Linked DNA regions of Homo sapiens. The protein of the gene in region 3 interacts with the protein of the main gene of each other region in a biochemical or structural test. Each region holds a gene or a part of one and is shown on either strand. Other genes may lie near its edges.

What was found.
Region 1: the proteins of BIRC2 (region 3) and GLMN form a complex in vitro, tested with the Homo sapiens proteins (one study listed by BioGRID).
Region 2: of the proteins of BIRC2 (region 3) and CSE1L, one has a biochemical effect on the other in vitro, tested with the Homo sapiens proteins (one study listed by BioGRID).
Region 4: of the proteins of BIRC2 (region 3) and MAD1L1, one has a biochemical effect on the other in vitro, tested with the Homo sapiens proteins (one study listed by BioGRID).

What each region holds. Positions count from the first base shown.
Region 1 is NC_000001.11:92,288,983-92,296,011, forward strand, and holds part of GLMN (glomulin), read right to left. Parts: intron 2,556-7,029; coding exon 2,436-2,555; intron 1,349-2,435; exon of another isoform or gene 1,325-1,348; coding exon 1,216-1,324; intron 170-1,215; coding exon 1-169.
Region 2 is NC_000020.11:49,091,302-49,097,468, reverse strand, and holds the end of CSE1L (exportin-2), read right to left. Parts: intron 5,424-6,167; coding exon 5,342-5,423; intron 3,330-5,341; coding exon 3,183-3,329; intron 2,738-3,182; coding exon 2,506-2,737; intron 1,294-2,505; coding exon of another isoform or gene 1,282-1,293; exon of another isoform or gene 1,121-1,281; coding exon 1,031-1,120; 3' UTR 520-1,030; downstream 1-519. UniProt on the Homo sapiens protein: Export receptor for importin-alpha. Mediates importin-alpha re-export from the nucleus to the cytoplasm after import substrates (cargos) have been released into the nucleoplasm.
Region 3 is NC_000011.10:102,371,194-102,378,222, reverse strand, and holds part of BIRC2 (baculoviral IAP repeat-containing protein 2), read right to left. Parts: intron 728-7,029; coding exon 473-727; intron 367-472; coding exon 325-366; intron 234-324; coding exon 40-233; 3' UTR 1-39. UniProt on the Homo sapiens protein: Multi-functional protein which regulates not only caspases and apoptosis, but also modulates inflammatory signaling and immunity, mitogenic kinase signaling, and cell proliferation, as well as cell invasion and metastasis.
Region 4 is NC_000007.14:2,222,922-2,229,950, forward strand, and holds part of MAD1L1 (mitotic spindle assembly checkpoint protein MAD1), read right to left. Parts: intron 2,630-7,029; coding exon 2,489-2,629; intron 1-2,488. UniProt on the Homo sapiens protein: Component of the spindle-assembly checkpoint that prevents the onset of anaphase until all chromosomes are properly aligned at the metaphase plate.

The DNA.
Region 1 (7,029 bases), on a different chromosome or scaffold from region 3:
ACAAAAGGCTTAGTGAACTCTATTAAGGCCTTGCAACACTGACAAAGGCCATAGTCATCCATTTGTATTTGTTCTTTTGAGTATGGAACAGGAAGAAGAGATAGCTGATTCCAAAGGGTAGACAATGCTAATCCAATTGAATATGCCTTGTTATGAAGTTTCTGAATCACTAAAACAGAGATCAAGTTGTCGCTCATCAAGTATGCTAAACATGGGACAAGAAATTCGGCAAATGTGGAATTATAAGACACTTCCTCCTCCCACATTTTAACAACTCTTGAATCAAGATGACACATCACAGTCTAATTGGCAGTGTTTTTTTCTTCTTAGTTGTGCATAAAATAATACAGCATCTTGCCATGAAATGCTGTTTAGGTTATGTTTATAACAGACTATGTGTAACAGGCTATGTACTTAAGACAGAAACATGTTCTTTCCATGTTTTTGGGTTGTTATAAGCACAAAATATAAGTGTATTGTAAACTATAAAGCACTACACAAATAGGAGGTGGTATTATTAGATTTTTTTTCCCTAGAAGACTGAATATTACAGGTAGTATGAAGCTGGCAGGCATTCATATTTAAAACAAATTTAATTTCTGATTCTAGGTCCCTCTATCAGATTGTGAGATAAACGAATTTCCTAAAATGAAAAATAACCTCTTCCTATGGATACTGTCTGCCTTGGTTGCTAAGACCCATTACCTACCAATACTGTTACTGCACTCAGCCATGGAGCCTTATCATCCCATATCTCCTCGTTTCATTCTTCAGTAGTAGCTTTGCTATGCCCAATCCAACCTCCCAAAGCAGAGGCTGAGCAATGCCTTGCCTGATACTCTTCCAGACTACCATAATGCTATCAGATTTAGTACTGCAGACACCACAGAGGTAACCCTTGAAACATGTTTAGAGAGAAAATTCTAGATTTAAGCAGCAGATAGGAAGGTTAGGCAAAAAGGTATAGTTTTCAATATAGCACATGAAAAATAGTATGACATTCAACAGAATATTTACTGGGTACCCACTCTGGCCAGATACTATAATCTTTCTATGAGCAGCAGTATTCACATTGGCATTGCTATTATTGGTTTAAGCAGAGTACTCACTAATTAGCTGTAAACTTTACTTTGGTGTAGTATTGACATTTTGAGGTAACCATCAAGGCATTTAGAGATACAACAAGAAGTACTCTGATATCAAAATTCTCATTACCTGTTTGTAATGGCTGAAGCAAAAGAAGAATACTTTGGGATATCTGTTTTCCAGAGGGCTCTTCAATCAGTTCAAGCAAACCCAACAATAATTCCTTTGGATTGCATAACTATAAAAATATTCACAATTGAACCTGTTTAATACAAGTTGTATTTAAAGCCACATTATTACTATTTTTAAGAAGGCATGTATCGACAAAATATTATACAATTATGTTTTTGCTTAACATTAAAATTATTTATACAATTGTTGAAAAAATATGCATGAGCAAAACACAGAATCTGTGATGGTCAAGTAACTATAAAACTAAAAAGCAAGAAGTCAATGGATCTTTAGGCTCAGGTTTCCTTTGAGCTTCACCTGTCCACTCTGAAATTGCCTTAACAGATTCTCAGGGGCTCCAGCAGGTGGGACCTTTCAATCCCATGCTGCAAGCCTATTTAGACTAGTCTGGAATCTCTTTTGTATTTTTTGAACAGGTAAAACTTTGCATTGCTTTCTGACTGGCCATATCTTATCATCTCACTTGACTGGTTTTTTAAAAGCTCCCAGCTCCCATAGTCAATAACTCATACAGATGGAGCTCTCCTTCCAATATATATTTGGGTATATTTGCACTGATCACTAAACAGTTTCTTATAATATACTTTTTCTCAGAATTTATCTTTCTTGGCCATCAAATATTGACTGTAAACTCTACTAGCCTTTTACCCAGGGTCGCTTTCTAAGGTTGTTAGTCACAACTGATCTGTATTCTACCCTATTCCTACTTCAATTTTAATCACTTGTATTCTAGGCCTTCCATTTTCTTTTAGGGAACATACCACAAAGGAAAGAGGACTGAGATTTTAATCTAGTTCCAATGTTGCCAAAAGATAAATGTGACCTTGAACTACCTCTCTAAAGCTTGTATTCCACATCTATACGATAAGGCTACTTGTTAAGATATAGCTTCCCAGGTCTCTCCCTGGAGATGCTGAATCAATGGGTCCGATATGAGGTTAATATGAGGTTAGACAATTCTTTTATCCAGAAAATTTGGGAAATCCTGAAATGGAATTGCCTATCCAATCAATAAGACTGGGTCTTTTCTCCAACGAGTTCCTTTCTGCATGTACTTTCATGAACCAAAAGCTTTCTTACCAAACAATAAACATTAAAGGGAATTATAAAATACTGCTGTGTGTTATGATAAAGAGAACCTTGTTTTGTTAACTTACCTTTACCAATAAATCAAAGATCAAAAAATAAACTTTTCTTTTACTATCCTCTTTATCTTTACACAAAAGGCATCGAACAACAGGACCAACGAGATTCCAGCCCATATTCTTGATGATGACCTGTAAAAACATTTTCAGAGTAAAGCAAACACTGCCATCTATAGGACTCTCGCAGTGTGCTTTCCTATCTTGGAAGAGCTCAGAATTGTTTCTGAAATAGGAAGATGAGACAAGTGAAGCCTATGACATTTCACCAGAGACTTTCCAGGGTTGGCTACTAACAGACATCAACATTTTTAAATAGTTTTTAATATGTTCCCTGAGGAAAGGCAAAAGGGTCTTTACTTTTTATCAGGCAAGTTGGTGTTTCCCAAGATTTAAATAGTGCCTCTATTTCCAACAAAAGAGTTAATTTGCTTAATACAGGTACTTAACTTCCACAGACAATTTTGCTCCCCTTATTCATAAAGAAATCCAGCCAATGCTCATGTACCTTTTAAAGTTCTTGGAGTCTCTAAATATAATCCTTGTAATTTATAAAAAAAAGAAGGGATACAACTTCATTAATTTTCTCTCCTACATACAAGTGGCTTCTATGTTCAAAGATATTTCAGAATGCTTACCATACAAGTAAAAGTTTATCTTTATAATGACTAATTCACATTCATTATCAAAACCACTAATTCTCAAAGGATCAACAATGTATTCCACTTCTCTGGCCTGCTTTGTATTTTAACTCATCAGTATTTACCAAGCCTACACTATAATATTCTAGAGGTTAGAAATAAAGTGAGGAACACACTGGATAAGATCACTACCCTCCTAGAGTCCTTCTTTAAAAGCACGGTGGTTGGCTGGGTGCAGTGGCTCATGTCTCTAATCCCAGCACCTTAGGAGGCTGAGGCAGGAGGATCACTTGAGCCCAGGAGTTTGAGACCAGCCTGGGCAACCTAGTGAGACCCTGTCTCTGTTTTTTAAAGTTAAATACATTCTTATTTATTTATTTATTTTGAAACTGAGTCTCGCTCTGTCGCCCAGGCTGGAGTGCAGTGGCGCTGTCCCAGCTCACTGCAAGCTCTGCTTCCTGGGTTCATGTCATTCTCCTGTCTCAGCCCCCCAAGTAGCTGGGGCTACAGGCACCCGCCACCATGCCTGGCTAATTTTTTGCCTTTTTTTTTTTTTTTTTTAGTAGAGATGGGGTTTCACCATGTTAGCCAGGATGGTCTCGATCTCCTGACCTCGTGATCCGCCCACCTCAGCCTCCCAAAGTGCTGGGATTACAGGCGTGAGCCACCGCACCCCGTCTTTTCTTTTCTTTTTTTTTTTTTTTTTAAGCATGGTGGCTCATGCCTGTAATCCCAACACTTTGGGAGGCTGAGGTGGGTGGATCACTTGAGCTCAGGAGTTCAAGACCAGCCTGGGCAACACGGCCAAACCCTGTGTATAAAATACAAAAATTAGCTGGGTCTGGTGGCACACGCTTGTAGCCCCAGCTACTTGGGAGGATGAGTGGGAGGATGGCTTGAGCCTGGGAGGCGAGGTAGCAGTGAGTTGTGATCACACCACTGCAAACCAGCCTGGGTGACAGAGACAGACCCTATCTCAAAAAAATATATAAATAATGAAAAAGCAGATCTAACCCATCTGACAAGAGATTAATAACCAGAATAGAAAAGAAGCTCAAACAACACTAAAGGAAAAAATCTAATAATCCGATTAAAAAATTGGCAAAAGATTTGAATAGACATTTCCCAAAAGGCATACAAATGGCAAACAAGCATATGAAAAGGTACGCATCATTATCATCAGAGAAATGCAAATCAAAACTACAATGGGATATCATCTCACCCCAGTTAAAATGGCTTATATACAAAAGACAGTCAATAACAAATGCTGGCAAGGATGTGGAGAAAAGGAAACCCTCATATATTGTCGCGACATGTATTGTCGCGATCTCAGCTCACTGCAAGCTCCACCTCCTGGGTTCACGTCATTCTCCTGTCTCAGCCTCCCAAGTAGCTGGGGCTACAGGTGCCCGCCACCACTCCCGGCTAATTTTTTGTATTTTTTTTTTTAGATATTGTTGGTAGGAATGTAAATTACTACAACCATTAATGAGAACAGTTTGGCAGTTCCTCAAAAAATACAAAAATAGAGCTACCATATGATCCAGCAATCCCACTGCTGGGTATATACCCAAAAGAAAGGATATCACTATATTGAAGAGATATTTGCACTCCCATGTTCATTGCAGCACTATTTACAATATCTCAGATATGGAAGCAACCTAAGTGTCCATCAACAGATGAATGGATAAAGAAAATGTGGTACACATACACAATGGAGTACTATTTGGCCACAAAAATGAATGACATCCTGTCATTTGCAATAACATGGATGGGACTGTAGACCATTATGTTAAGTGAAAGAAGTCAGGCACAGAAAAACATTGAACGTTCTCACTTTTTTGTGGGATCTGAAAACCAAAACAACTGAACTCACGGACGTAGAGAGTAGGAGGATGGTTACCAGAGGCTGAAAATGGTAGTGGGAGGCAGGGAAGATGGCTAATGGGTACCAAAAAAAAAAAAAAAAGTTATAAGTAATGAATAAGACCTACTATTTGATAGCACAACAGGGTGACTATAGTCAATAACTAATTGTACATTTTAAAGTAAATGAGTATAATTGGTTTGTTTGTAACACAGAGGATAAATGCTTGAGGGGATGGATACCCCATTCTCTATGATATTCTTATTACACATTGCATGTCTATATCAAAACATCTCATGTACCCATCAATATATATGCCTTCTATGTACCCACAAAAATTAGAATTTTTTTAAAAAAAATCTGATCTAGGAAGAAGACAAAATGACACCTATAATACCTCATCTTGACCCCAGTCTTGTAAGATAATAAAAATAGAGTATACGATACAGTAGTCTCCCCACTTATCTGCAGGGGGTACATTCCAGGACCCCCAGTGGATGCCTGAAACCATGAATAGTACCAAACACTATATATAAATACTATACATGCATATCTGTGACAAAGTTTAATTTATGAGATTAACAATAACTACAACAATTATAATATACTGTAATAAATAGTATGTGAATGGTCTCTCACAAAGCAGTAAATAGTAAATCTTTTTATTTTTATTTTTTTTCTTTAATTCAGTCTTATAGGTGAAGATAATAGTAAATCTTGGTCAATTTTGATAGTGTCACCTGGCAAGAAAATTAAATTGTAGTCAGTTTTTTGTTGTTGTTGTTGTTGAGATGGGGTCTCACTGTTTCCCAGGCTGGAGTGCAGTGGTACGATCTTGGCTCACTGCAGCCTCCACCTCCTGGGTTCAAGCAATCCCCCCATCTCAGTCTCCCGAGTAGCTGGGATTACAGGGGCGCACCATCACGCCCAGCTAATTTTTGCATTTTTAGTGGAGACAGGGTTTCACCATGTTGGCCAGGCTGGTCTCGAACTCCTGACCTTAGGTGATCCACCCGCCTCGGCCTCCCAAAGTGCTGGGATTATAGGCATGAACCACTGTGCCCAGCCTGTAGTCAGTTTTGAACATTGTCTTATCAATATCTAAACCTTTGCATTTAGCTGACCACATATTGCAAAGGTGATTCTCAAACTATTAAGACTAAGCCTCACATGTTTAAATCTATCCCATTAGCTATTCAGAAGCATGCTAAAAATAAAACGCTAAGGCATGCAATGCCTGAAAAATACTTTGTTTATACTTCCCTTTTCCTTCTGCCTCACTGATGTGGTGCTGATCCTCATCTCCTTGGCAGGCCTCTTCTCTCTACCTGTTTCTTAAATTCTTCAAGATGGGATCTTGGGCCTCTTCTCTTCTGCCCCTTTTATGTGAACTCAGGTAAATTCTTGTTTTTTTTTTTCACTCCTCAATGCTTCAATTACCCAATCTTTAGGTAATTAAAGTCTCACAGATATGTGTCTCAGAGATCTACATCTTAATTCCTCTATCTCTACTGAGCTCAAAACCTTATTTTCCAATTGACTGCTGTACTTAAACTCAAAATTTCTAAAAGTCAACTCACTTGTTCCTTCAGAAAACTTTTCCCTCTACTTAGGTTGCCTTTTTCTGTTTGATATCATATGTTATCCTTTTAGAGGCTAGAAACCCAGTCATTTTTGATGCCTCTCCCTCTCAATCAAGCAATCCCCTGTATTCTACCCTAAAACCATACGCCATACAGCACTAACCAGAGGTAGAGCAGAGTGGTTAGGAGCTCCAAAACCATGCTACACAGGTCTGAATCTTGGATGTTACATAAAAGCTGACTTACTTTTGGGCAAGTCATTTAACTTTTCAGTTACAAAATGAACACCTACCTTCTGAGATTTTGGAGAGACTAATTAAGTTAATAAATGTAAAGGACTAAAGACAGCATCTGGTACATGTAAACATGCAATAAATATTAGTTGTTATTAATTTTTTTATTATTAGCTGAAAGCTAAGTACTTTAGAAGGTTATCCTGAGAACGCAATTAGAAAAAAATCAAGAAGAGTTTAAAAAACATAAGATTTATTATATTGGAGGTTACAAAGTTATCATAA
Region 2 (6,167 bases), on a different chromosome or scaffold from region 3:
TAGATATTCTGATTCTTCATTCCTCAGAAACGAATGCTGTACAATTCCATGGGCCAGGCCAAGGGAGGGAGCCAGTGCAACCAAGCTCACCAGGCATCCGGCCGGATCCACCACTGGACTGGACTTCACGGTTCTAAGGTGTCAGGGTTTGAAAAGTTCCAAGTAACCTCCACTCTCCAGGGAACAGCAGAGATGAAAGAGATCAAAACATCCACAGTCTCAAGTACTCTCGACCGCCATCCCATTAAGCGAGGCAGAGCATTTCTCCCAGAGGAGCCACCTACCCAAAACTCACACTGCCACCTAGGAACTGCTACAGAAAATTCTAGTAAATAAGCCCCAAATCTATATTAATGTCCCCTTCCCCCATATAAAAAAAAAGACTAAATAATCTGAGTTTACATGATTTAGAAATTAGGATTTTACAGAGTCCAGGAAAGGAAAAGGAAGAAATTTAAAGAAATTCTTCATTTTTATAAAAGCATGAGAGAGCACTGAAAACCTGCCCTTAAGATGTTCTTAGGTACATATTTTAGGATTTTTATTGCTGATTACAGATTTGAAACTATGAAATGTGCACTGCTTGGCAAGTAACACAAGTAATTCTTTACTTATTCACATTTCCAATAAAAGCGTAAATAAACAGACAAAAAATATAAAGGACAAGAGAAATACAAATAGCAACAGCTTCAAAACAAAAGGATTTAGTAACAGAAAGTCTCCACAGTGTCCGTCAAAATTTAAGATTATCCAAACCGTGCAAACGCTCAACACAAACCAACGCCATACACTGAACTATTAATACTTGTCCCTTGAAGTTGCAAACTAGAAGCCACCCACATAACTGTATGATCACACAAACCAACTAATTTGCTCAAGGTTCAGGTTAAAGCAACATTTAATATCCTTTACAAGATGGAATTCGTGACAAGTTCAAAAGGAGAACTTCCTTTGTTTTAATGCAGCTGTGCTCAGAAGCCTGTGATTTCCTAGGAAACCATCTGGGTTTAGCCCATTAGAAAAATGCAGTTTAAAGCAGTGTCACACTGGCTGCCTGAAGGTACCCTTGGAGATACTGGAGCGCTTCTGCATTCAGGCTGGTGCTCACCATTGATGGAACCTACAAGAGATGGGAAACACACACTGGCTGTTGGAGATCTTGGTGCGCCAATACAAACCCCATCTTCTACGGGAGAGCTGCCACAGCTCTGGGAAGAGCAGCCAGTCAAGTCATTAATCACCATCCAAAAATTCTCCAGAAACTCAACTGCTTTTATGCCTTCAAAAATAGGTCTAAAGAAAAGATCCATAAGGAATTACTATTATTAGGTGTGATAGTGGTATTGTGGTTAATTAAAAAGTCCTTACTGGTTAATGATGTAGAATAAGGTACTTACGCGTGAAACGTATGATGTCTAAGACTTGCTCAATACAGAGAATAAAAGGAGAAACGAAACAAAACTGGCAAGATATTGGTAATTATTGAAGCTGGGCACATGCAGGCTTCATTATGCTCTTTCTATATATGTTTGAAAGTCTCCGTAATAATACAATGAAAAAATATATATACATATATATACACACGCCACACACATATATGTTTTTTAAGAAACGGGACCTCGCTCTGTTGCCCAGGCTGGATTGCAGTGGCACTGTAATAGCTCACTGCAGCCCTGGCCTCCCAAAGCACTAGAACTACAGGCATAAACCACTGTGTCTGGCTTGAAAAATATATATTTTATCAGGTAACATGTAAGAACTCTATAATAAGTGCTGACAAAATGCAACTATACAGTCATTATTAGGTTTATGCCATGATCTATTAATTTCTGAGTATGCTGCAATTAAAAAAAAATAACTGTGTCCAGGCTCACACTTGTAATCCCAGCACTTTGGGAGGCTGAGGGAGGAGGATGGCTTGAGCCCAGGAGGTTGAGACCAACCTGAACAACATAGGGAGACCCTGTCTCCACAAAAAAATAAAAAATTAGCTGGGCATAGTGGGTCCTAGCTACTTGGAAGGCTGACAGGCAGTAGGATCACTTGAACCTGGGAGGTTGAGGCTGCAGTGAGCCATAATCGTACTACTGCATTCCAGCCTGGATAAGAGTGAGACCCTGTCTAAAAAAATAAATAAATAAAAATAAAAATAAAAAAATGCTACCACATTTTAATAATAGATGGATTACTTCGATCTGGGAAATAAACTCTTATTATAAAGTGCTGACAAAATGCAACTATACAGCCTTATTACATTTCTATTGAAGGGATTTTTCCTCCTTTGTTCTCACTCCTAAATCCATTCACTTAAAATATATTTGTAGTACATAATACAAGAAAAAAAGGGCTCAGTGTTTTTAATTAAAGAAAATAAGCTTGCTGTAACTCAATGAGATTTAGTTTTATTACGCCCACCAATGAAAACAGACACCAGAACTACTACTATCCTTTTGCCCTCCCATTAAAGTCTCCATTTATCACAGAGTTCTTTGACAACACACTTACCCTTCCTGGACAGGCGGTAGACAACTTGTGAAGTGACTGTGCCAGGTGAATTTTGGGGTTATTCACCATTTGACCTACAGGATCATGCTCTTTTTTCCCAGCAAATGCCAACTGTGAGAAGGCAGTCTGATATCCTGGTGTATCTTCTATGTCAATAAAATGTTCCTCATCAGGAATGGTATCATCTTCGGGTAACTCAAAAAGACCAATCAAAGACTGTAATAATGGAGTCCTGGATTGGAAGAAAGCAAGAGATAAAAAGGTCAAGAAAATACTCGGAAGACTTAAAACCAGCAATTGCTCAGAGACACAAAATTACAGACTCATAGTCTCAAGAATAAAAGGGGACCTTTGAAATTAAGATGGTTCTTTTCTTGGCTTATTCAGTTCTTCCCCTTAAAGATAAGTCAGTTTAGTTGGGCTTCTGTCATAAAATTGTCTTAGAGATCACCTAGATCAGACTCTTAAAGGGGTCCATGAATCCCCCTGAAAAAGAAGCAGGAAACAAGATCATTCTAAGCCCAGAAGGATCCAGAAATCATGTCTTGGATCTGATTGTGGAGAAGCTGAGATCAGACCAAGATTCTCTTGGCCCCCAAGAGAATAAGCTTTGTTAATTTTGCAGTCATATGGGAAGGAAGCTGTAACTTACAAAAATATTAAAATGAAGTACTTACCACAGTTTGGTATACTCAGTGTCCATCATTGGGGGACATTCTGTTAGTAATTTGGTTATGCCAACCGCACAGATCTTTTTCTCTACATTTCCAGATACCTTCTGAATTTCAGGAATAATAATTTTTTCCAAAACCATTCCAAACATTCTATTAAAGCAAAATAAATCAACTTAATATTAGATTATCACTATAATGAAATAGTAAAATGCTTAGATGTTAGTTACTTCTTATGAATATGATAAATTACTAAATAACAAGACTGCTGTTTTTGATCATCTGAAGAGACTGAAAGTCAAAACATAAAAAAACCCCATCACACCTCTACCCTGTAGCCAAATGCCATAATCTTTTTCTTTTCTTTTTTTTTTTGAGACGGAGTTTCGCTCTTGTTGCCCAGGCTGGAGTGGAACGGTGTGATCTCAGCTCACTACAACCTCCACCTCCTGGGTTCAAGCAATTTGCCTGCCTCAGCCCCCTGAGTAGGTGGGATTACAGGTGCCCACCACCACGCCCGGCAAATTTTTGTATTTTTAGTAGAGATGGGGTTTCATTGTGTTGGCCAGGCTGATCTCGAACTCCTGACCTCAGGTGATCCACCTGCCTCAGCCTCCCAAAGTGCTAGGATTACAGGCGTGAGCCACCATTCCTGGCCCTCTCTGCTTTTTTCTTTAAAAATTACACCTGGCCAGTCTCAAAAAAAAAAAAGAAAAAAAAAAAAAAAAGAGAGAGGAGCAAGGAGGGAAAAAAGGAATCATCCCACCACCCAGAAACAACTAGTTTTAACATTTTTGGGTTATAAGCTTCCCAACTGTCTTTGCTTACATACCTGCAGGTACATAAATGCTAATGGCTATTTAAAATAATTCGGCCAATCATTCTATGTTGTTGCAAACATGCTAGAAGTGAAGTTTTCCGTAATTCTAAATGATGCAAAATCCTCAGTTTATGCGTTAATAGAACCAATTCTTTGAAGTGGAAATATGGCTCAAAGGGTATGGCAATTCTAATGCTCTGGATAAAAAGTGCATACATTTTGCTCTCTAGAAAGATCAGGCTAATTCAGGCTCCCACTAGCAGTGCATGAGATTTCCTCAAAATCCCCTACTGCCGGAAGCCATGTTTTCTGGTCTCCTTTCCAGAGTAATTCATTTTTTAGTCAATGTAGAATTTTTGAGACATAACTGAGGTACAGGGATCTAACTGTCCCCGAAGAAATTTTCCCTAAGAGTTGTTCTTTATCTTATCGTTATAATTGTTTTATTCCCTACTAATGGGAAATGCCACCTAAATACATTCTTTGCATATATACCAGATAAGTCAAAAACAAAGTTAATTTATTGGTCCTAAGTATTTCTCATTTGAAAAATTCTGCTGTGTTTGCATTAGCAGCACATATACTAAAATTGGAACGATATGGATTAGCACGATTTTTTAAAAAAGGGGGAAGGAAAATTCTGGTTTTTTTTTTTAATTATACTTTAAGTTCTAGGGTACATGTGCACAACGTGCAGGTTTGTTACATATGTATACATGTGCCAAGTTGGTTTACTGCACCCATTAACTCGTCATTTACATTAGGTATTTCTGCTAATGCTATCCCTCCCTCTGCCCTCCCTTCCCCTGCCCCCCATCCCACGACAGGCCCCAGAGTGTGATGTTCCCCGCCCTGTGTCCAAGTGTTCTCATTGTTCAATTCCCACCTATGAGTGAGAACATGTGGTGTTTTCTGCTGTTAGTTTTAATAAGGCAGGCTCCTGGAGACAACACTGACCATTTAACATAATATAGAACACTGGCTGTGGAGAATGCCAGTGTGTAGAGTAGATGGTCCTCTAATCTAGAGGATTAGAACAATGATTCCAGGGTGTTTTTTCTTTTTTTGAGATGGAGTCTCACTATATTGCCCAGGCTGGTCTCAAACTCCTGAGCTAAATCCGCCCTCCTCAGCCTCTCAGAGTGTGGGATTACGGGCGTGAGCCACCATGCTGGGCCAGGATTACTTTTTCTTTACTCCCAATACCTAAGAATATTTTGAAAACCATAGACACTATCTCCATACCAAGAACCACATCATCATCTATAAGACAGAGATACTGATTTGTACTAAAAAAAAAGTCAAAACATTTTCTTCCTTTAAAAAATAATAAAAACAAACTTACTTTGGTTGTATACCATCAAATATTTCTTGTAGTGCTAGTGCCCCATATTTTATGCAATACAAATTAATAAAGACTAAAAAACCTGTTGAAAGAAGATGCAGAATATCAGCATAGAGAACTCACGCACTAAACTGGTAACTGATAAGTCTGCAAAATAAACCTATGCTTAATCATTAACATCCAAAGGCTGTGGCATCAATACCTGCCTTCTAGTAAATAGAAAACTTGTCTTTCTGTCATAGACCTTTACATGCTGTCTCTCTTTGATTTATATTTCCTTATAATATTCTCTCTACTGAAAAAATGTTTTGGTATCCAACCATAAACCAACCTCTGGAACACAATATGACTAACACTAACTTAATGTTTGGAGAACACAAACATCTTAAAATATTTTCTTTTTTCTTGTGAGAAGGTTTCACTCTATCACCTAGGCTGGGTGCAGGAGCGTGATCACAGCTCACGCAGCCTTAACTTCCCAGGGTCAAGTGATCCTCCCACCTCAGCCTCCTGAGTAGCTGGGGCTACAGGCACACACCACCATGCTTGGCTGTTTTGTAGAGACAGGGTCTTACCATGTTGCCCAGGCTGGTCGTTAACTCCTGGACTCAAGGAATACTCCCACTTTCACCTCCCAAAGTGCTGGGATTACAGATGAGAGCCACTGCACCAGGCCCTTACAATATTTTCTTTTTTTTTTTTGAGACAGGGTCTCACTCTGTCACCTAGGATGGAGTGCAGTGGGTGTAATCTTGGCTCACTGCAGCCTCAACCTCTGGGACTTAGGTGATGCTCCTACTTCAGCCTCCCAAGCAGCTGCGACTAC
Region 3 (7,029 bases):
AGACCTTTTTATGCAGGTTAAAATATAGACTATTTTTCTTTAAGAGAGAAATGTACGAACAGTACCCTTGATTATACCCCTGCAAATAGGGCATTTTCTTAGAGAAGGGGCACATTCCTGGCATACTACCAGATGACCACAAGGAATAAATACAACAGAAACTTCTTTGTCCATACACACTTTACAAGTTCGTTCTTCTTGCAACCTCCTCAATTGTTCTTCCAGTGACAGACCTAATAACAAAAAATAACTTTAGTGAAATTGTTTCCACTTCATTAAAAAAAAAGGGTAATAGTTCATGTTGGTTTTAAATCTTTGTTTTACCTGAAACATCTTCTGTTGGAATATACTTCATATTCTTATCCACTGAGGAAAGAAAACATAAAAACCATTACTCTACTAAATACAAAACTGAGCCACCGCATCTGGCCAGTCCTAAGAATTTCTAAAATAATTTTCCCAACAAACTCACCAAATAAGTTCTTATACAATGTAGAGTCAATTTCTTTTAGACAGTTTTTGAAGATGTTGGCCGCAGCATTTCCTTTAACCAAAATGGTATCAATCAGTTCTCTCGCTTGTAAAGGTATCTGTGTTTTTTGTTTAATAATATCATGTTCCTGTTTATTAATTACATTGGCCTTTAAAAGATTATCCAGGATAGGAAGCACACATGTCAATTGTTGAAAGAGAGCCATTCTGTTCTTCCGAATTAATGACAAATCATCTTCATTAAAAAAAGAAAAAGAAATCCATTAGATTTTAAACTCCTTTAACTATACTCATATAGTCACTAATAACCAACCCTACAAACAATTTAGGCACTAAATAAAGTTCAAAAAAGAACAAAGTAACTTGTTTGCATTTGTAAGTTTGTTGTTTGGAAAACTTCCAGAGGAAGTCTCTGTTTAATTTTTAAGTCTATATATTTACATGTCCTAGAACTCCGCTTTTACTTTATTTTGTTGCAAGAGATTTGTAGAAGACAGTAAAAATTTCCCCCCACCATATATAATAATACTCTTGTATTTCCATTATATCATTTTACTTTTGTAAGCACTTTCATAGTAATTTGTCTCATTTGATACAGTGATCCTGTCAATTAAACAAGGCGAGTATTACTGCCTCTCATTTTTACATAGGGAGAAAAAAGACTCAGAAAAGAATGAGTGGCCTAAGATCACAAGAAAGAATAAGCTGCAGAACCAGGCATCCTAGACCAGTGTTCTTTTCAACACCCCATACTTAAGACGTGGTATTGTAGTATTGTAGGGTTTGAGTTGCCAAGTCAAAACAGACCTAGGTTCCAGTGTTGGCTAGGCCCACTCACTAGCTATGTGTCCTCATCCTTCCCCATACACCTCAGTTTCCTCATCTGTAAAATATACATAACGGTACCTTCCTCAAAGTTGTAAGGATTGAATAATACATGTAAAGCATCTGGCACAATATGTGGTACATAGTTAACTACCATTATTATTTTATAAATGTCTATGTTTATAGCAATTAAAAAAAACTACCTAAGAATCAAGCCTGACCTTTTTTTAAAAAGCCAATGTTTTTCCTTTAATATCGCATCACATAAAACTCCACAGTTAATTTATATTTATGGAATATGGTAGTTCCTTCTTTTGGTATCTGAATCATTATAAAATTTGTCTATTTTCAGACTTTCAAAAAAATTTAAAAAGTACATCTCTACAAAGTACCAGTTTAATGAGAAATAAATTATAAAAACAGAAGCCTATCTTCTTTCCCCTTTTACATCTCTCTAGAAGTGAACTGCTCTATTAATCTCAAAACTATAAAATTCCATTCTGTGACAACTTTTTCTTCTACCTAAATAATTCCTCTCACTGCTAACCAATTTGTTCTTCACCTTTTCAAGATCTCCATGTCATTCCCAATTCTACTTGCACAAGAGCTATCTCCTGGCTTTGCTTCAAACCTCCTATTCTAATCTAGGTAGCAGTCAGGTATTTCAATGAAGTTCTCTATATTAGCACCCTTAACTCATCTTCCGTATTCCTTACTTGCCCTTTCCCCTATTAACACTGCCAAATCTGTAATTCAATACTATTTTCCAACCCATACAAAGTATGAGAAAGTCATAAATCTAAGGTGACAGTGATTTCATATAACCTTAGCTGGATTTCATTACTACTTAACAATCCTTAAATTGACTTTTCTTAGGCCCTTTCTTTCACCAAGTCCCTCCCACTTCCCAAGTCAATCTACCTAATGCTTAAAAAAAAAAAAAAATTGACGTGCTAGGAGCTGTGTTAAAGTGTTTTATTTGCAATATCTCATTTAATTCCTACAGCAACCCTATGGGAGTCATACTATTATTATCCCCATTTTACAGATGAGAAAGCCGATGTCTGGTTGAATAAATAGCCAAGCTAGTAACTGATAGAACTGGAATTTTTTTTTTTTTTTTTTTGAGATGGAGTCTGGCTCTGTCACCCAGGCTGGAGTGCAGGGGCACGATCTCGGCTCACTGCAAGCTCTGCCTCCCGGGTTCACGCCATTCTCCTGCCTCAGCCTCCCGAATAGCTGGGACTACAGGCATCCGCCACCATGCCCGGCTAATTTTTTGTATTTTTAGTCAAGACGGGGTTTCATCGTGTTAGCCAGGATGGTCTCAATTTCCTGACCTTGTGATCCGCCCGTCTTGGCCTCCCAAAGTGCTGGGATTACAGGCATGAGCCACCGCGCCCAGCCTGGAGCTAGAATTTAAACACAAATCTGTTTCAATGTAGAAGTCCAGACTTTAAATATTTTGCTACACGGTCATGCAATAAGGTACTCTTAAGTTATTCCTGTCTTTACTTACAAGCTTAAAAAGAAAGCATCTTCCAACGCAATACTCCAATACATATGCAACCTTCGCCTCTCTGCTGGCCCTTTAACCCTGTCTTTTGCACACTAGTCTCGCCAGCTAGTGTATATACTCCTTGACAGCAACCACTGTGATTAGGCACAGTATTTGGCACTGGTGCTCATGCTCAACAAATATTTATTGAAGGAGGGGAGGAGCCAAGATGGCCGAATAGGAACAGCTCCGGTGTACAGCTCCCAGCGTGAGCGACGCACAAGACGGGTGATTTCTGCATTTCCATCTGAGGTACCGGGTTCATCTCACTAGGGAGTGCCAGACAGTGGGCGCAGGCCAGTGGGTGCGCGCACCGTGTGCAAACCGAAGCAGGGCAAGGCATTGCCACACTTGGGAAGCCCAAGGGGTCAAGGAGTTCCCTTTCCGAGTCAAAGAAAGGGGTAACGGACGCACCTGGAAAATCGGGTCACTCCCACCCGAATATTGCGCTTTTCAGACTGGCTTAAAAAACGGCGAACCAAGAGATTATATCCCACACCTGGCTCGGAGGGTCCTACGCCCACGGAGTCTCGCTGATTGCTAGCACAGCAGTCTGAGATCAAACTGCAAGGCAGCAGCGAGGCTGGGGGAGGGGCGCCCGCCATTGCCCAGGCTTGATTAGGTAAACAAAGCAGCCAGGAACTCGAACTGGGTGGAGCCCACCACAGCTCAAGGAGGCCTGCCTGCCTCTGTAGGCTCCACCTCTGGGGGCAGGGCACAGACAAACAAAAAGACAGCAGTAACCTCTGCAGACTTAAGTGTCCCTGTCTGACAGCTTTGAAGAGAGCAGTGGTTCTCCCAGCACGCAGCTGGAGATCTGAGAACCGGCAGACTGCCTCCTCAAGTGGGTCCCTGACCCCTGACCCCCGAGCAGCCTAACTGGGAGGCACCCCCCAGCAGGGGCACACTGACACCTCACACGGCAGGGTATTCCAACAGACCTGCAGCTGAGGGTCCTGTCTGTTAGAAGGAAAACTAACAAACAGAAAGGACATCCACACCGAAAACCCATCTGTACATCACCATCATCAAAGACCAAAAATAGATAAAACCACAAAGATGGGGGAAAAACAGAACAGAAAAGCTGGAAACTCTAAAACGCAGAGCGCCTCTCCTCTTCCAAAGGAACGCAGTTCCTCACCAGCAACGGAACAAAGCTGGATGGAGAATGACTTTGATGAGCTGAGAGAAGAAGGCTTCAGACGATCAAATTACTCTGAGCTACAGGAGGACATTCAAACCAAAGGCAAAGAAGTTGAAAACTTTGAAAAAAATTTAGAAGAATGTATAACTAGAATAACCAATACAGAGAAGTGCTTAAAGGAGCTGATGGAGCTGAAAACCAAGGCTCGAGAACTACGTGAAGAATGCAGAAGCCTCAGGAGCCGATGCGATCAACTGGAAGAAAGGGTATCAGCAATGGAAGATGAAATGAATGAAATGAAGCGAGAAGGGAAGTTTAGAGAAAAAAGAATAAAAAGAAATGAGCAAAGCCTCCAAGAAATATGGGATTATGTGAAAAGACCAAATCTACGTCTGATTGGTGTACCTGAAAGTGATGGGGAGATTGGAACCAAGTTGGAAAACACTCTGCAGGATATTATCCAGGAGAACTTCCCCAATCTAGCAAGGCAGGCCAACGTTCAGATTCAGGAAATATAGAGAACGCCACAAAGATACTCCTCGAGAAGAGCAACTCCAAGACACATAATTGTCAGATTCACCAAAGTTGAAATGAAGGAAAAAATGTTAAGGGCAGCCAGAGAGAAAGGTCGGGTTACCCTCAAAGGGAAGCCCATCAGACTAACAACGGATCTCTCGGCAGAAACCCTACAAGCCAGAAGAGAGTGGGGGCCAATATTCAACATTCTTAAAGAAAAGAATTTTCAACCCAGAATTTCATATCCAGCCAAACTAAGCTTCATAAGTGAAGGAGAAATAAAATACTTCACAGACAAGCAAATGGTGAGAGATTTTGTCACCACCAGGCCTGCCCTAAAAGAGCTCCGGAAGGAAGCACTAAACATGGAAAGGAACAACCGGTACCAGCAGCTGCAAAATCATGCCAAAATGTAAAGACCATTGAGACTAGGAAGAAACTGCATCAACTAACGAGCAAAATCACCAGCTAACATCATAATGACAGGATCAAATTCACACATGACAATATTAACTTTAAATGTAAATGGACTAAATGCTCCAATTAAAAGACACAGACTGGCAAATTGGATAAAGAGTCAAGACCCATCAGTGTGCTGTATTCAGGAAACCCATCTCACGTGCAGAGACACACATAGGCTCAAAATAAAAGGATGGAGGAAGATCTACCAAGCAAATGGAAAACAAAAAGAGGCAGGGGTTGCAATCCTAGTCTCTGATAAAACGGACTTTAAACCAACAAAGATCAAAAGAGACAAAGAAGGCCATTACATAATGGTAAAGGGATCAATTCAACAAGAAGAGCTAACTATCCTAAATATATATGCACCCAATACAGGAGCACCCAGATTCATAAAGCAAGTCCTGAGTGACCTACAAAGAGACTTAGACTCCCACACATTAATAATGGGAGACTTTAACACCCCACTGTCAACATTAGACAGATCAACGAGACAGAAAGTCAACAAGGATACCCAGGAATTGAACTCAGCTCTGCACCAAGTGGACCTAATAGACATCTACAGAACTCTCCACCCCAAATCAACAGAATATACATTTTTTTCAGCACCACACCACACCTATTCCAAAATTGACCACATAGTTGGAAGTAAAGCTCTCCTCAGCAAATGTAAAAGAACAGAAATTATAACAAACTATCTCTCAGACCACAGTGCAATCAAACTAGAACTCAGGATTAAGAAACACTCAAAATCACTCAACTACATGGACACTGAACAACCTGCTCCTGAATGACTACTGGGTACATAACGAAATGAAGGCAGAAATAAAGATGTTCTTTGAAACCAATGAGAACAAACACACAACATACCAGAATCTCTGGGACACATTCAAAGCAGTGTGTAGAGGGAAATTTATAGCATTAAATGCCCTCAAGAGAAAGCAGGAAAGATCTAAAATTGACACCCTAATATCACAATTAAAAGAACTAGAGAAGCAAGAGCAAACACATTCAAAAGCTAGCAGAAGGCAGGAAATAACTAAGATCAGAGCAGAACTGAAGGAAATAGAGACACAAAAAAACCCTTCAAAAAATCAATGAATCCGGGAGCTGGTTTTTTGAAAAGATCAACAAAATAGATAGACCGCTAGCAAGACTAATAAAGAAGAAAAGAGAGAAGAATCAAATAGACGCAATAAAAAATGATAAAGGGGATATCACCACTGATCCCACAGAAATACAAACTACCATCAGAGAATACTACAAACACCTCTACACAAATAAACTAGAAAATCTAGAAGAAATGGATAAATTCCTCAACACATACACTCTCCCAAGACTAAACCAGGAAGAAGCTGAATCTCTGAATAGACCAATAACAGGATCTGAAATTGTGGCAATAATCAATAGCTTACCAACCAAAAAGAGTCCAGGACCAGATGGATTCACAGCGGAATTCTACCAGAGGTACAAGGAGGAACTGGTACCATTCCTTCTGAAACTATTCCAATCAATAGAAAAAGAGGGAATCCTCCCTAACTCATTTTATGAGGCCAGCATCATTCTGATACCAAAGCCGGGCAGAGACACAACAAAAAAAGAGAATTTTAGACCAATATCCTTGATGAACATTGATGCAAAAATCCTCAATAAAATACTGGCAAAACGAATCCAGCAGCATATCAAAAAGCTTATCCACCATGATCAAGTGGGCTTCATCCCTGGGATGCAAGGCTGGTTCAATATACGCAAATCAATAAATGTAATCCAGCATATAAACAGAGCCAAAGACAAAAACCACATGATTATCTCAATAGATGCAGAAAAAGCCTTTGACAAAATTCAACAACCCTTCATGCTAAAAACTCTCAATAAATTAGGTATTGATGGGACCTATTTCAAAATAATAAGAGCTATCTATGACAAACCCACAGCCAATATCATACTGAATGGGCAAAAACTGGAAGCATTCCCTTTGAAAACGGGCACAAGACAGGGATGCCCTCTCTCACCACTCCTATTCAACATAGTGTTG
Region 4 (7,029 bases), on a different chromosome or scaffold from region 3:
CAGCGTTGGCACCCCCGCTGTGGCACCATGACGGTGAGCACTGTGCGAGGTCAGGGCTCCCAGGAAGGGCACTTGGCACAGATCACACACACATTTATCACACCGTCTGCTCAGCAGTTGCCTCTGCAGGGAGAGGGGGCATGGGAAATCTAAAATTCAGCATTGACCTTGGGGAGAAGCTGAGCTTTCATAGCACCAGCAAATCCTGTCTAATTACGCTCTGTCCGGCACTGAAAGGAGCTGGCACTCCCCCAGCGAGCAGACAACAGGGGCAGAGACAGGCAGCGTGGACAGGAGGCTGTGGGCAGAAGCAGTTTACACTGGGCTCAAATCTGCCACACATGCACCCCCTCTCACACAAACCACAAACCTCCAGACCCACCCCCCACGACTGGCCTTAGGGAGGCCGCGTGGCTCTCACTGGTTGGGATGGGACATGACCAAGCACCACGCTCAGACCTCCTGACTCTAATGACCCGCAGGCCCTCCAGAGTTCACTGCCAGGTACCGGCGTCCCAGGAGGTGAAGGCGGTGAGTCCTGGTGGAGCCCGGCACTCCGGGACCCTCTCACCCTGCCTTCCTCGGGAAGCACCAAGCACTCCCGGAGCCCCGGGTGGAGTACGAGCTTGTGCTGTCCTCATCCAGGGTACTCCAGCCCAAAACCCAGGAGAGCTGTGACAGAGGTGGCCGCCTTCTGAGAGAGGCTGACCCGCGCACCTCGGAGGGACTCCAGCCCTTGTGAGCTGCAAGGGCTGCCTCACAACAACCAAGAGACCCTTCTGTGATGCAGGACAAGAACTGGGGTTGGCACGGGGCTCCGCTCAGCACCATCACAGCCAGATGCGGCACCGGGCCTGGAACTGCCAGTCCCAGCGCAGACAGGGCAGCCAGCAGGTCTTTGGACTTCAGACACTTAAGTCTCGCCCCTAATAGGTATTTCCAGGTGGAACTCCAAGGAACAATTGGAAAACTACTGGTTCTGACTGTTCCTGGGGTCCCATGCAGCTGTGTCTGCGGGCAAGGAAGGACAGTCCTGTTAGAAGGTGGCTGGAGCTCAGCAGGGAGCCCCAGGTGTAAGCCCAGTCACCTGCATCCTTGGATTTCCCCAAGACAGGGTTCCCGGAGACCCTACAATGACCCCTCCCTCAATCCAACATTTGTGAGCACCCATAAAATGCCATAAGCTGTGCCACACAATGGAGATCCTGGGCAGAGTCGGGTGGGCCCTGCCCTCAGGGACTCTCGGCCTAGAGGAACTCCAACAGCTGCACACTGTCCCTCCTGCCTGACAGCCACAGCCATACCATCAGCATGCTGCCTCCAGACCAATGACCTGGTGGCTCCTCTCCACCCCTAACAAGGGAATCTCAGTAGTTAGGGAGACTCCTGTGGACTCTCCCTCCCCTTCCCACCAATTCCTCCAGTACTGTCCCTCCTAGGACCCACCCAGGCCATGAGCAAACGCCCCACCTCTCAGGGAAAACAGCTCTCAAAGCAGCAACGGAGCCAACCCTGAGGCAGTGGCCCCCACCCCAGCGGTGCCTCAGTCTCACTGAGCCCACACAACGCACACCGCAGTCAGGATCTGCAGGCCAGGGGCAAGCAATCCAACCAGCATCACACCCCGGAAGACGTGAGCTATTTTTCTAGGGCCCAGGAGAGTGTGTGAATACACCGCATGATGTCAGGGCGGGGCTGGACATCCACCCGCCAAGAGAGGGCACGGAGGCCAGGGAGACTTTCCGCCCAATACTCTGCCTGAACCTTGGCAGCATTTCCACAACTGATCAGCACTGACTGAAACCCTGGCAAAGTGCTGTTAATCAGAGCAGAGGGGATCCGCGCACTCAGTGGAAACCTAATTCCCTCCCCAAGGACAGGGTGTTTTCCCTGCTGCCCTGGGGAGCCAGGAGCAACACAGAGCCGCCATTGAGACCGGCACCCTTTGCTAGGGCCCTCCAACCCCAAGACCCAGCATGGACCCGAGACCCTGATCCACCCCATGACCTCCTAAGCCTGTCACTCCTACACCACTTGGCATTTCTGCCAGACCTGCATTCCAATTCTTCCAGAGGGAAGAGGAAACCAGGAGACCCAGCAAAAGAATCTGTGCCAGCACCGCAGCCTCAATGAACAGACACAGCAAGTGTTCCCATTTCATGCCACCCTCCTCTAGGACATCAAGCATAACTGATACCTGCCCCACAGCATGAGTGGCCTCAGAAGGAATGTCCTGGCAACCATGACACAGGGCGTGTCAGGCTTCCAGCCAGCTGGGTTCTCATTTCCTACGGCCTGGCAGGTACCGTGCACAGCCCCCTTGCTCCCAGGGACTGGGATCTGATTTCTTAAGACCTGGCAGGTACCATGCACAGCCCCCTTGCTCCCAGGGACTAGGATGTGATTTCTTATAACCTGGCAGGTACCGTGCACAGCCCCCTTGCTTCCTGGGGCTGTCTGGGCCGACCCTCGCCCCGCCTGAACCCACCTCGTAGTTCCTGGCACTGGTGCTGGCTGCTCTCTCCAGCTCCACTCGAGCCCTCTTGTGACTCAGCTCCATCTGCATTTTCTCCCGCTCCACCTGGATGAGGTGGGACTTCGAACGGATCTGCTCTGCTCTTTCCTCCAGCTGAGCAGGTCGCACCCAAAGAAAAACAGAATCCTCAGTGACGGCATCAAACCAGGTGAGTGACTCAGTGCAGCAGACACACTCCCTGAGGACCCATTCCCGCAGGTCCCGTGCTAAGTCTTGATGTGGCCCAGCCACTGGGCTCCAGGCTGGGGAACAGGGGAGGGGCAGGAAACGGGAAGGTGAAAAAGCCTGGGAAGAGGAAGACGTCTTTTGAGATGACATTAAGCATATTAGTGAAGGCAACGGCCTCGAATGCCACCCATTTATTTACCAGCCAACGGCTCCGTGGGTCGGAAGTCCAGACGTAGGTGGCTGCATTCTCTGACCAGGGTCTCCCAGACTAAAAATCAATGCAGTCGGCCAGGACATGTTCTCACGTGGAGCTCAGAGATGGAGAATGAGGTCTCCTTCCCGACTGGCTGCCAGCCCAGTACAGCCATCAACTCCTAGGTGCTGCCCACATCCCTTGCCACACGGCCCTCTCCATCTCCAAAGTCAACCACGTCCAATCTCCCTCATCAAATCCCTCTCCTGCTATGTCTCTTGACTGCTCGGCCTCGGACGTCTGGACTCAGACTTAAAGGGCTCAGGTGAGTACATCAAGCCCACCAGGGAGTGGATCAAGCCCACCCACGTAATCTCCCTATCTCAAGGTCAACAGATCTTAGACCTTAATTACATCTGCACAATCCCACAGCAATGAAACCTACTCAGTATTGGACTGAAACCTGGGAGGCAGTAGGAAGGTGAGTGTGCACAAGGAGCCTGGAATCTGGGGGCCCTCTCAGAAGCCTGCCTACCACACAGGGTTAGTGATTACAGGTGAGCTGAGCCTCTGGGGGCCCTCTCAGAAGTCTGCCTGCCACACAGGACTAGTGATTACAGGTGAGCTGAGCTCCTGGGGGCCCTCTCAGAAGTCTGCCTACCACACAGGGCTAGTGATTACAGGTTAGCTGAGCCTCAAAGAGCCCCAGAAGACTTGCCAAATAGTTCCAGAGCCGGCCTTTGGGTACGACCTGCTCAGCTGGAGGAAAAGGCAGAGTCACTGACTCTTCACGTGGCCCAGAGCCTTGCAGTGCAGCATCTCCCGGCACTTAACAAATGCAGAGTCGCAGACTACACCCCAGACCTACTCAGTCAGAATCTTCTCTTTAGGTTGGGTGTGGTGGCTCACACCTGTAATCCCAGTACTTTGAGAGGCCAAGGCGGGTGGATCACTTGAGGCCAGGAGTTCAAGACCAGCCTGGCCAACATGGGGAAACCCCGTCTCTACTAAAAATACAAAAATTAGCTGGTCGTGGTGGTACGCACCTGTAACCCCAGCTACTCAGGCTGAGGCAGGAGAATCGCTTGAACCCAGGAGGCGAAGGTTGCAGTGAGCCAAGATCACACCACTGCATTCCAGCCTGGATGACAGGGCAAGAGTTCGTCTCAAAAAAAAAAAAACAAAAGAATCTAGGCCAGGCGTGGTGGCTCACGTCTGTAATCCCAGCAGTTCGGGGGGCCAAGGTGGGTACATAACTTGAGGTCAGGAGTTTGAGACCAGCCTGGCCAACATGGTGAAACCCTGTCTCTACTCAAAACTATGAAAATTAGCCGAGTGTGGTGGTAACGCACCTGTAATCTCAGCTACTCGGGAGGCTGAGGAGGGAGAATCACTTGAACCCAGGAGACGGAGGCTGCAGTGAGCCAACATTGTACCACTGCACTCCAGCCTGGATGACAGAGTAAGACCCTATCTCCAAAAGAAAAAAAGAAACTTCTTTTTAGACACATTCTCAGGGCGTTCACATGCACATGAAAGGTTGAGAAGCACCAGAGTAGAGTGGTGGTTCCCAGTGGGGTCCAGTTTTGCCCCTGGGAACATCTGGCCCTGTCTGGAGACACCTGATTGTCACAGGGGGGTGGTCACATGTGTCTGCTGCTGGCTGGCGTCCAGGGGGTAGAGGCCAGGGAAGTTGTTAAACAGCCCACAATGCACAAGAAAGTCCTGAGAAAAAAGAATTACCCAGCCCAAATGCCAAGCGTGCCAAGGCCAGGAAAGCCTGGGACAGGGGAGGGAAGTTTCTCTGTCCTCCCACCTGTGTTCTCTGGTGGCCCAAGCCCACACTTCCTTTACTCCTATGTTACTGTGTCTCGATTCTCAGCTGCTGCTGTTTGGGCGTTCCTAAGACTGCCCTTCAAACTCAGCAGCCTTCCTGGTCTCACTTCTGTGTCTGCAGTCAAGCCTGAGCCTCTCGAGAAGGGTGGGCACCCCGCCTGCAGGGGGCACGACCGGCAGGGACCAGGAGTCCCAGACACACCTGATCCGTGTGCCACCTCTGCCTGGAGCTGACTACAACGGAAAGAAAGGAACCCTGAAAGTTTACCCTTACGTTAAATCAACACGATGTGTGAGAAACCAGACAGCACACATTCCCCCGGCCTGCCATGTTCTCCAGGCCCTCCCTGCCACGCCGGGGGCTCAGCAGGAGAGAGAGAACCACGACGAAGTCCAGGAATGGGATGTGACAGGGGCCAGGGACCAAGGCTGGTCTTGCCGCCATCACTCCGCTCACCACCTTGCTCTGACTACCGCACTCCATCACTGATCCCCTCACCGAGAGGCCTTTACCAGTGAGCACTGGGGGCCTCCGAGCCCCAAGACAGACTCTAGAATCCCACAGCTTTGACAGACAGGCCAAGAGGTCCCAGACATTCGCAACACTAAAATCACAGCATTTCAGACCAGAGTTGCCAACTCTGTCACCCGGGCTGGAGTGCAGTGGCGCGATGGCTCACTGCAACCTCCGCCTCCCAGGTTCAAGCGATTCTCCTGCCTCAGCCTCCCGAGTAGGTGGGATTACAGGTGCCCACACCCGCCTAATTTTTGTATTTTTAGTAGAGATGAGGTCTTACCATGTTGGTCAGGCTGGTCTCAAATTCCTGACCTCAAGTGATCCAGCCACCTCAGCCTCCCAAAGTGCTGGGGTTATAGGCATGAGCCACTGCAACCAGCTCAGAGTTGGCCACTTCTCATTTTGTCAGTGATAAAAAACAACTACCATCTATTACCTTCATAATTTCACAAAAGAACATTTACATAAATATTATATATATACACACACACATATATATATATATGACCTAATCTCAGAATAAAAAACAGTCCTCATCAAGAAAGGGCAGTGAGCAAGCTAGCAACTAGCATTCTTTTTTTTTTTTTGAGACAGGGTCTCACTCTGTCACCCAGGCTGGAGTGCGGTGGCGCAATCTCAGCTCACTGCAAGCTCTGACTCCCGGGTTCACACCATTCTCCTGCTCCAGCCTCCCGAGTAGCTGGGACTACAGGTGCCACGCCCAGCTAATTTTTTGTATTTTTAGTAGAGACAGGGTTTCACCGTGTTAGCCAGGATGATCTTGATCTCCTGACCTCATGATCCGCCCACCTCAGCCTCCCAAAGTGCTGGGATTACAGGCCTGAGCCACCACATCTGGCCACAAGCTAGCATTCTAATAAACACACATTAATTCAATTATGCAACAAAACAAATGCACACGCACACACAGTTTAACCAAATGCAGCAGGGCCTCATCTGGGCTCTGAGAGCGCAGGAAGCCAGAGCCTCCTCTAATGCGGACAGAACTACAGAACGGCTCTGGGGACCGCAGCAGGGACTGGGAAAGAGGGTCCAGGCAGAGGAGCCTAGAGGAGCCTGCGCAGCCACAGGGCCCAGGCAAGGCTGGAGACACTACTAGCCAGCACTCCACTCCCCACCACTCCCTACAACTTGGGGGCCCCATTATCGCAGCCCCAACTGGGACTGGGCTCATCACTCTTTGGAGCCTGAAGTCCTTCAGGAGGCCTGAATCCTCTGCAGTTGTGTCTACAGTGAGAAACCCCAAGAACTTGTAATGAAACAAAATACAACTATTTTATAGAAGAAAACTGTAAAAATCACCCCAAAATCTGTAAATGGCCCTCCACAGTCTGAGACCACAAAACACCCAGTCCTTCTGCTCACTGCTGTGGCTTTGTCTCTGGGCTGCCCAGGCACTCTCAGCACTGTGTTTCCAACACAGCCTTCCCGACAGTCCTGGTGCTCACTCCCCCAGGCAGTTTGGGTTCTGTCCTCAATTAGATGAATGAACTGGCTTTCCGATCCTGTCACCAGGGTCTGTGAGTGCACTTGTGTGAACGCAATGCTGAGCGCCAGGCCCACTCAGGGCGCTAACAAGGCAGGCCTTTAAGCCAGGATGGCTCAGGGCCCCAACTAGCCTCCAGCTACGACCCCAAAATGAGGAGTGCCCATAGTGAGACCTGGGAGACGAATAGCTGTCTCTAGGCTCTGCTAATACCGACCCACCTCAACTACAGAAGACTGGAAGAGGTCCTGCCCGGGCCCAGGGTCTCCCCA